Linked DNA regions of Homo sapiens: region 2 is linked to region 1. Evidence: fine-mapped expression QTL. A gene starts in region 1. The other region holds a variant in brackets. All regions are shown on one strand. Distances are from middle to middle.

Region 1 (5,377 bases):
ATTTTGTTAGAAAGTACACTTAGTACACACACACAATACATCGGTTGAGTACTTCAAAACATTATTCAAAAAGCAACAATAAAAGAAAACATGGGAGTTTTTCATTTATCTGGCTGGAAAAAAATTGTTGATTTCAGCAATGGAATGAGCTGTACGCATTCCCAACATAATAAAATCCCTTTTACCTTAATGATTAATGAATAAGGTAATTTCCTAAGTGATGATTCTAGTTATCTCCATAACTATATGTATTGATACTGAAAACAGTAAGTGAACACCAAGACTACATACACTAACAAAGCAGCAGCATCTGTGTCATTTGATTCATAGGACAATCATTTTGTCATCGACATCAGCAAAAATAGCTGATTTAAACTTTGATGTTCTTTAGCATATAAAGAGGAGAGATAAGCATCTGACTAACCATTGTTTCAAATATCCTTGACTGTTTCTCCTGAGCAAAGAAGACAATTTAAATTACTAATTTCTCTCTCATATTAGTAACATAACTAAGTTTAATTGATGCTAATGATCTCCATTGACTAAAGTGCTTAGGTCCTTTTCAGAATATTTAAAACCACGTTAAATTTAAAAATATTATCTTTATTAGGAAATGTAGCATTGCTACTGCAATACTGCTGGCATGTAAAAAATAATAATGTATGAGAAAAAAATTATTCAGTCACCTTGCAGGACATGTTTTTCAAGAACTGCCACAAAACTATATTCATAGGGCCCTCCAATCTTGTAACTTGTTGACAATGCAGAATTTCCAAGAAATTACTTGGAAAAGGTAAAATGTGTGTTCAAATAGTCTTGTCAGTGCAGAAAGATTCAAAAGTTAATGTTCTAGTACATGACTGACTATATTATTTTTCCAAGGAGCATATTTTCAGAATTGACTATTTTTAAACTGCATACTGAGTGCACACATAGATTACAAATGTGCTAGTGTTTCATTATGATTGCATATAACATCATGATTACACATTGAATAACGGAATTGATCGGACGTTACATTTTCCTGTAAAAGCACTGTGGGTAAACAATGTCTGGAATCAATCATCCACTATAAATTGGTCCACAATTTCCTGAACTGAGGGGGAAAACATCTGATTAAAAGCCACAACTAAAACAAGTTTCTGAAGTAGTACAGATAACGTCCTGCTTACATGAGGTAGATAATTCTTTCCTCCATTCCTGCACATCAGCTAAAGATATACTTTCAAGTCTGGCAAATCAAATGGCATGATCCGAATCAATGTGCTCTACACTTTGGAATCTATGAGATGTTTATGTACCTACCAAGTTTAGAGAGGAGAGTAAACTTTTTTAAAACTTTCAAACACATCAGAATGTAATACAAACTGAAGCAATGTGTTTTGTTTACATAACTGTATTTAAGTGGCAGAAATATTTTAAGACATCCATTTTAGTCGTTTGCTCCTTTCATCCTTTTTATTTTCTGAACTTTTAGCTTTTTCACCTAGACTCAAATTCTGCCCTACCCCATTCTGGACTCCTTTTAGAAATATCCTATTTTAACATGCTAGTTTAAAAATCGTTTTGCTTTCATCATTCCCAATTACTTTTGAGCATCAGTCTGACTTTTACTACAGAGCCACAGATTTCCAAAAAATATACCTCCTTATTTATTTCATTCTTTCAACCTCTGGGAAAAACCAAAACTGGAGTTTAACTTGAATCTGTCTTTCCATTTCTGGAGAAAATGTTTCCTTTGGCTGCTGAAATTAACGCAATCAGACATGTGTGGAAACAAGCAGCTATGAGCATCCCTGACTTTCGAAGCTACACCCCTTCTTTTGGCTACCCACCCATACGTCTTCATTTGATAACCGTTCAAAAAGTTTCTTCCTGCCAGGCGGGTTTGCAGCACTTTCTCGGAGCAGGCACAGCATGCCACCTGCACGGGTGCACGCTCGCAAGAAAGCAGCAAGGGCTAAGGGACAGGAGGGCTGGGGAGGGGAGGCACGGGGCAAATCAAAACTCAATCCCAACAGCGTTAACTGGCATTTTAGGCCGAAGCTCCGGATTCGGAGGCTGGGGAGGAAGTAGCTAGCGCTGGCCTCGGCTGCCTGGCACGACCCGCGCCCGTCCTACCTGCCTGGGGGAAACTCGGGCGGCGGAAAGTCTCCCCGCCCCCAGCCGTCCCAGGCGTGGGGCCAGACAGGCGAGGGGGGCGGAAGGGGGGCGGCGGCGGGGGTCCAAGATCCAGGGCCGCAGCGGGCTCCCGGTGGGCTGGCGAGAAGAGGAGGGCGTCGGGGCCCCCGGGCTCGCCCCCCACCTGCCCCCCTTACCTTGGGCAATGGCAATAGACTCGAAGCGGTGCAGCTCTTTGAGCAGGCAGCTCCTCTCCGTGGAGTGCAGGCTGTAGATGAAGTCGCGCGCGCCCTGCGCCGTGTTCAGCGCCTCCATGGGCTCCTTCTTGGGGTGCGTGCCCAGCCGCCTGGGGCCGCCCGGCAAGCCGCCGGGGGGCGCGAGCGCCAGCAGCCCCCGCCCGCAGCAGCACCAGGACGGCGGGCGGGGCGCGGCGGCGGCGGCCGGGCCCGGCCTCAGGCTGCGCGCGGTCCGGCTCCTCAGCAGCGGCAGCAGCCGGGACATGGCGAGCTGAGGAGCTGGGACCCCCGCGGCCGTCCGGCAAGGCGGTTTCTGGCGCGGCTGAGGCGAGAAGGAGCTGGGCTCAGCTCGACCCCGCCCCGAGGTCCTCCTGCCAGGCAGCCGAGGCGCCGGGCACCATGCACTCCGCGGGCCCGCGCGGCTCTCGCCTCCTGTTCCGTCCCCACTTCCTTTCCAAAAGGCCCGCGGCGGCTCCCGCCCCTCCGATGGGAAAAACTTTCTCTGAGACGGCCGGGCCCGGACAGCGCCCGGAGAGGGCGGGCGGTCGGTGCGGGCGGGCGCCTCCCGGCTGAGGAGGAGCGGCGCGGGCGGGCGGGGCGGGCTAGTGTGTGTCTCTGTCAGTCTGATCTTCCAGAGGATGAGTCAGCCACGCACCGCCCTCCTCCAGCGCCGCCCTACTCTCCCGCCAGCTTTCTCACCCTCTAGCCTCCCCACGTCCCCACTCTGTAAGGTTCCCGAGCCCTCAAAGCAGCCGCGCTCCCGAGCCGCAGCCGCCGCCGCCGCCGCTACCCCTAGCGGCAGCAGAAGTGGGAACGGGGCGGGGCGAAAGGGGAAGGAGGTGCGGGGGGGCGGGGAGGTGTGTGAGCGAGGCTGCGCAGGCGCAGTCTGCAGGCTCTCGGGCCGCCCTCCCTCCTAGGGGAGGAGCGTGCACACGCGTCCCCTCCCGCGCTGGTGCGTGAAGGTGGAAGGAGGTAGGGTGCGCCACCCTGTGCTGGCGTTAAACCTACAGATCGGAATAGGGAAAACGAGCTCTGGACCCCTCGCCCGCCAGGGTAGTACAGCTGCCACCCGGCCCCCAACCTGGGGCCACATCTGGAGCTTGTTCTGAAAGGTGCCCCGGCGTGCGGCCCCGCTCTGGACAGGCGGAGAGCTGCGCTGCCACCCCAGCCCCGACGGGATCACGGCGCTCTGCTCCGGAACGAAGCGCCCCAGCTGCGCCCTTCGCCAAGTCAGCGCCCACCGCCGCTTCGGCCGAGCAGGCCGGCTCTAATGCAGTCGCTCTGGGCGCCCCAAAGAGAAAGCGAAGCCAGTTCCACCCCTGCCCAAGGAGGGTCTGAGACTGAGCCCTTGACACGAGAACAGTCCTCCCCGTTCAGATTCCAGCAGCTGGCATGCAAATTGTTAATGCTAGAGGCAGAGGCAAGAATGTCATAGACCTTTCCTAGTGGTTGCTTGTGATTTTTTTGTCTCTGTGCTAAAGCGGGAAGAATAATTTGATTGTCCACGATTTCCCCTGATCCAGGTCCTAGGCATCTTTCAAGGCCCAGGTGAAAGGTCTCCTACTTCATTAAGCTGTCCCTAATCTCTTCTAAGGGAGGAGATCTCTGCTTTATCTGAACCTGTCTAATGACGCTTAGGCACCCTTAGAGAATAAATCCACTTAATAAATCTGCTGGAGCGTAATCAAGATCTAAATCCCATCCTTATCATAAACAGTGCTGCACTCAGCCCGGAAACTTGTAGGTAGTAAATGTGCTACATGTAAGTAGAATATTAAACTGAATAATGGAGGATTGTTACCACTAAAGCCTCCTACTTCTCTAACTCTGGTTCTCAAAGTGTGTCCCAGAGCTTTTTAGACGTGAGAAATAGTGGACCCCACTTCACACCTCCTGAATCAGAACGTAGACATTGGACCCAGTCATGTGGGTTTTAACAAGCCCTCCAGTAATAACACACACGAAAGCTTGAGAAACACTGATGTCTCTTAAACATTGAAAGGAATCGCTTCTTTTTTAAATTCCAAGGTGATGCCTCTGTGATGTAATAACAACAATTAAGAATGCTCTCTGTGGAAATGAAAGCTTTTTGAGTGCATAAAGTATATCTTCCTTGTCTTTGAAACCCCCTTCATTCCCTAGTGTGCACTGGAATCCTCTGCAGAGCTATTTCAGTCTCAGGCTCATGGGAGTACCACCCCATCCCCCCCACAATTTCCTACCCCCAAGATATTCTGATTCACTGGGGTGGATCACAGGCCCCAGACCTGGGAAGTGAGGTTTGAAAAAAGTTCTTCAGTAAGAACCCATTCCCAACCACCTCCAGAATAGTAGTTTAGTGTGTAGCCTCCAGAGACAGACTGTGGAAAGTTCGATCCCTGGATCAACCGTCTCCTAACTATGTGTTAGTATTAGATTGTTATAGTAGTGATCCCCAATGAACTACACCTTCTATTATCCGCTCCGTTGTGTGGTCCACCTCTACATTGACTGTGGGCTTGGCTATTTGACTTGTTTTGGTCAATAAATAGGAGGACATCATAAACGTGATATGATACATGTTTGCTCATTGGGGTTTGCTGTAATGCTTTTGCTATATTACTATAGAATATTTAATTCTATTATAAAACAAGAGAAACTAAAATGTAGAAGCAAGTCACTTATGAGAAAGGTTACACATAGAATGAATGGATATGGGTTGAACATAGATAAAAAGGATGGAACAAATGAAAATGCTGCTTTAGATAGAGGCAGAAAGACAAAGTGGACTTTTAAGTATTAATAAGGTACAGATCATACTATCTTCAGATTTACAGCCATGTCATCCCTAAATTGCATACCTACTGGTAACACCCATTGTAACGCTATTATGGCCTCATGTAATCTCTTCCCAAGAAAAGCAGATAAACCCCCAGCTACAAAGCCAACTAATGCCAGCTACCATTATAACCAGACACACTTGCCCCTCAGCTCTGTAACAGAACAGACATATGTTGAGCCCAGGCCCCTTCAGTCTGTTG
Region 2 (5,377 bases), 340 kb before region 1:
TGTGTTTTCTTTTTTCCTACCTTTCCATGCTATTCTCAGAGGGAAATACCTTGCTGTGGTTGGTGAAGCTTCAGGGGCACATGAGAGAGGAAGGAGAGTGGGGAAGCAGGTGTAGGAGCCAAGGGAGAGCTTTCCCTTGGCCCTCTGAAGCTTCGCTGAAAAATCAATTCACAAAAGGTAGATTAATAGGAGAAAAGGCATACAAATTTATTTAATGTATATATTAAATATACACATTAATATATGGGAGCCTTTAGAAGGAAGATCCCAAAATAGGGGGAAATCATCCATTTTTATGCTTAGGTTCAACAAAGCATGGATGGACATGTAGAAATACGATTCAGTAAAAAGGGTATTATCTAATGCTAGTGGACTGAGTGGGGAAACAGCAAGGCCTGTCTGCCTAGCTGCTTCTTGGCCTCTCTGTAGCATTCTTTCCTTCTGGATGTGGAGTAGAACCCTCTCTGGAATGGGCTACAGTTACACAAGATAGGTCAGATAATTTCTTTATGGCCAATTTTTACATAGAAAGGCAGAGGGAAAGTTAGAGTCATATTTTTAGGTTTTATAGCTGGCTTTGGGGAAATGGGGTTCTGGTTTCTGTGACCTGCACTAGGGAAGAGAGATTCTAGTTTCTATGGCTAACCTGGGGGTGAATGGGACTGAGAGATAAGAGGGCAGGAGGTCAGAGAAACACTTTTGCTTCTGAGGCTTTCATTTGGGGGTATTGTTTTCTGAGCCCCAGTTGAGGGAAGGCAGGGGCAGACATGTAACCAGGCTGAAAGTACACATGAAATTAAAAATGGGATCCTGTTCCTGAAAGCACCTAGGAAGGTGCTCGATAATGTTGAATGAATCCAACTTAGATACTTAAGTGAGACACTGCATTATCTTGCCAGCAATTCCAATTTGCATATATTTTTTTAAATGTACAAGTTGCTAACTTTAGGAGTGCAGCAACAGTCTTTGTGGAACACTTTCACAAGACATTAGCTGAGTCTTTCGTTTTAACCATGAGTTTAAACACCCATTTATTGTTTAGTAGCAGTAGAAATGAATGATGTTTTTTGTCATTGTTTTGTTTTACTTTAAGAAACACAAGGCCAGCCTGGCATGGTGGCTCATGCCTATAATCCCAGCACTTTGGGAGGCCGAGGCGGGTGGATCACCTGAGGTCAGGAGCTCAAGACCAGCCTGGCCAACATGGTGAAACCCTATCTCTACTAAAAATCCAAAAATTAGCCGGGTGTGGTGGCATATGTCTGCAATCCCAGGTACTTGGGAGGCTGAGGCATGAGAATTACTTGAACCCGGGAGGCAGAGGCTGCAGTGAGCTGAGATTGCACCACTGCACTCTAGCTTGGGTGACAGAGCAAGACTGTCTCAAAAAAAAAGAAAAGAAACACAGGCCCAGGCTCTGTGGCTCTTGCCTGTAATCCTAGCACTCTGGGAGGCCAAAGGGGGGCAGATTGCTTTAGTCCAGGAGTTTGAGATGACCCTAGGAAACATGGTGAAACCCCATCTCTACCTCCCAAAAAATCAATAAATACAAAACTATCCGGGCATGGTGGTGCCTGCTCATGGTCCAAGCTACTTGAGAGGCTGAGGTGGGAGGATGGCTTGAGCCCAGGAGTCAGAGTTTGTAGTGAGCTGAGACTGCACCACGTCACTCCAGCTTGGGTGACAGAGCGTGATTCTATGGGGGCAGGGTGGGAGGGGGATAAAAAGAAAAGAAAACCCTGCAGAATCTCAGATGTGCTTTGCTTAGGGCAATGTAGCACACTAAGTTAAGAGCATTGCTGCACAAATACTTAAAACTGAGATCTGTAGACCAGCAGGATTAGCGTCCATCAGGAGAAATCAGATTCTCAAAATTTCCCAGAGACCAGTTGAATTTGAGTGTGCATTTTAACCAGATGCCCTGGCAATCCATGTGCTCACAGCAGTGTGTGAGGAGCATTGGCTGAGAGTCTGGGCTCTAACCCTGATAACCTATGATTTGGTGATAGCTTGCAGGCAATAGAACATTCTGTGTGAAGAGAGAAACATTAGACCAGGGCCTAGAATGATAGAAGTGCTCAACATGTGTTAAATATTATTATTGTTAGAAAAGTAAATAAAGGATATTCACTCAACCTATATTTACCACATGCTTCCTGGGTGCCAAGAACTCTTTTAGGCACTGGGGACACGGCAGTGAAGCAACAGACAAAAATTCCTTTCTTTATGAATTGATGTCTTAGTGATGTCTACAAATGGCAGAGGGATTGCTTTTATTATAGGAAAATAATCTTAGGCTTTCAATACGTATTAATTTTATTTTACAAATGTATTCCCCAATACATTTTGGCTATTATTATTAGAGAAGTGATAAGTTGAGGGTGATTTGTCTTATAATTTTGTAAATTACAGGTTGTAGAGTGGTTGCCTTTACCAACAACAAAATAAACTTACTTGATTTTTTTTTTTGAGCTCAACAAACACTGGCATCCTACTGCTTAAAGAATACAGTCCCAGCTCCTCCACATACTGAGCAGGATTCTTCAGCTTCATCTGTGTCATTCTCTGTCTAGCTCTTATGCTTACTGGTTGTGACTTCTTTCCCAAAAGCTCTTAGCATCATTCCTGGCACAGAGTAAGCACTTGCTAAATATTAGCTCATATTACCTAAATCTTTGTTCACATGCTTTCCTCTCTTTTTGGGATCCAACTAAAGTGCCCATTAAAGCCCAGCTAAATATTTGAATCCTAAAGGAAGGATGGAAATCACTGCTGCTACTTCTCAGTTTCCTCAGTACTTTCTGTCTTTGCATTTGAGTAGGTGAAGGTAAGTGGCCAAGTGGAGTGGCCTCTTTGTGAGCCCTGGAGGGAGGGCCAGGACTGAGTCTTCTGGCCCCACTCCCTCAGCAAGGGCCTAGCAGCACTGGCAGTAGTTGCTAAGCTGAGTTGCTCATAATCCATTTGTGGAACCCGCAGAGCACAATAGAAAGGCAAACAGCCATGCTCAATTTCGGATTCAGAGACTCTCCATGGGGTCCTTGGAAATTGTCAGAGCAAGTTGTGGCCTTTCATAATAGGATTTTGTGACTCTCAATGGAAAGGAAGTGATGTTAAAAAA[A/G]AAAAAGAAGAAGAAGAAGAAAATTACTGACAGGAAATTCTAAGAAACACCAGGAAGAGGAACTTAGAAGAAGAGTTGACAACATTTTGAGAGGTAGCAGCTAAGTGCCATAGGTTACTCTCAGAATGATGGCCTTGCTGGCAACAGCCAAGACTGGGTCCTGGGACTCCTTAGAGGGGTAAGGGAGTACCCTTATCCTGGTGACTGAGAAATAAAGGAGCCACACTGCCTACATTTTGTCTTTAGATTCTGAGAATACATGCACCCCTATGCAGGCATATACACACATATACATAAGTACATGCACACACAGGCGTATGTACACACATACATGTGGACATGCACACACTCCCTGTGCATACTAATACTACCCCACTCATACAGACATAAACATAGAAATTAAAGCAAACATAAATAAAAATACAAATCTGAGCACATTCAAAAGAGAGAGAGCAGAGCAGTAAGGGAATCTGAGACCACACTGCATGAGGAAGCGGTGAAGGTGTTTAGCCAGGAGGAAAGTGCATGGCAGGCCAGGTAGATTCTTCTAAGTCATAGAGTCCTGACTTATGGAAGAAGTACTAGGATTCTTCTACATGAAACAAAGAGGTAAAAAGTCAGGTTGGAACTCCAGACAGTTGGAAGTTCCAGGAAGAAGATTTCAGCTCAGAGTGACAGTCAGGCTATGGGGTTCAGAGTCTAGAGTCTAAATTTGGAATCATCTCTTTTATTTTTGACTTTCGTCTCTGTCACTTAAAAACTGAGCCATCACAGGCAACTTACTTTATCTCTCTGAGCCTGTGTTTCCCCATTTATCAAATGGTGGCAATAAACACACCTACTACCTATTAAGTTTAAATGACCCACGGCTTGGAAGAGCTTATCACAGTGCAGGTTTAAGCTTTAGGTCCCACTAGACCTGGATCTTCCTCTGGAGATATGGAGTTGTGCATCAAGGCAATTGGGGCCATTGTCTTTATTTTGATTTAAGAGGAGCTCTTGAGAACTGCTCTCTGAACATACTTCCAGGTGTGTCTCCAGGAAGGACCTCTTTTCTCAAAAGGGGAGGCCTATAATTATCTCCTACTAATAAGTCAGTCTTTTTTGTAACCTTTCTCCAGCCTCCTGGGAAACGACCGGCTGGTTGGTCTGTGCAAGCAAAAGTCGACGTGTACCTGTGGCTGGGCTCCATCAAGCATGCCAGTGCCATTTTGGACAACTTGCCAGTAGGCTATGAAGCAGAAATGTCCTCCAAAGGGGCTGGCACCAATCACCCCCCATCTAACCTGCTCTACCAAGGTAGGGTCCCCACTGGGCAAAGAGGGTCATTCGAGGTCTCAGGTGGGCTTCTGAAAAGATAATAAGGAGGGCAGCATGCATGAGTTTTTTGCACATTATTTTAGGGCCAACTTATTGGTCTTCTTAAGTAAAGTACAGTTTCTAAGTGTTCTACCTTACCTTTCATTGTCCCATCTAAAAAGAGTAAAATCATTAAACACATCTGGAATAAACACTTATGTTTCTCTGTTAATAGAGAGGAAGTAATTTGAGTTTCTTTGTAGGCAGATTATGTAGGTTGAGTTTGCGTTTTAAGCAAAAAATGTCAGAATGTCAATATGTTCTTGTGCTTACATGATCTGTGGAATTAAGGCAGATTTTACTTTTATGTGGCATTCGAGTTTTGACATATCAACAGCAGATATTCACATTTCCTAGTAGTAACCCAGTGGAGACTGGTATCAGTAGGTTCACTTATATTTCTCCAGCTTGGTTCTTGGCTCGGCTGCTTTTAAAATTCAGCATGCTTTATGGAATCCTTTTTCTATGTAGTTATTTTCTGTAAGTGCCATCATGTTTATGTTTTGATACATTTTTGAGTTTTATTATAAATATTCCTTACACTTGCATTTTGCTTTCTGCTTCCAAATTACTTCCATTTATGTTATCTCTTGCTGCTGAGTTCAGATAAAGCAGCCTGCAGTTTTACCTTCATTTCTGCTGAAGTTGAGTTTTGGGTTGAGCCAATGTTGGAAACACTGGAGAATTGTCTGTAGAGTCAGGTCTTCTCTGTGGCCCAAGGCTCCTCTGAGGTTGGTTGAACTTAGACTGCCAGTGGAATCGAAGTTGCTCAATAGTCAGAGAATACAAGGTTCTGGAAATACATATCCAATGGTTCAGCTCATGGTTTCTGTACCCCATATAAATGCGTAAGAGCATTGTCTTTGGAAAATGCATAATACCACATGCCAAGCATTGTGC

The links. PIP is the estimated chance that this variant, and not a neighbour inherited with it, causes the effect. A credible set is the group of variants that fine-mapping cannot tell apart.
Region 2: its variant is the best candidate, but not a certain one, in a credible set for the expression of TMEM65 in whole blood (TOPMed, PIP 0.54).

The regions. Positions count from the first base shown.
Region 1 is chr8:124,369,536-124,374,912 of GRCh38, forward strand. TMEM65 (transmembrane protein 65) reads right to left here and starts at 3,166. Exons shown (of 7, transcript NM_194291.3): 1 at 2,319-3,166. The coding sequence starts at 2,622. RefSeq lists silencers at 2,189-2,238, 2,249-2,378, 2,429-2,558, 2,689-2,958, 3,079-3,308 and enhancers at 3,033-3,327, 3,539-3,728.
Region 2 is chr8:124,031,038-124,036,414 of GRCh38, forward strand. FER1L6 (fer-1 like family member 6) reads left to right here. Exons shown (of 41, transcript NM_001039112.2): 19 at 4,240-4,417. All of the region lies in intron 1 of FER1L6-AS1 (FER1L6 antisense RNA 1), which reads right to left. Among named protein-coding and RNA genes, the nearest start is that of FER1L6-AS1, 7.1 kb to the right of the region's middle. The variant A/G (reference allele first, on the strand shown) is at 3,119.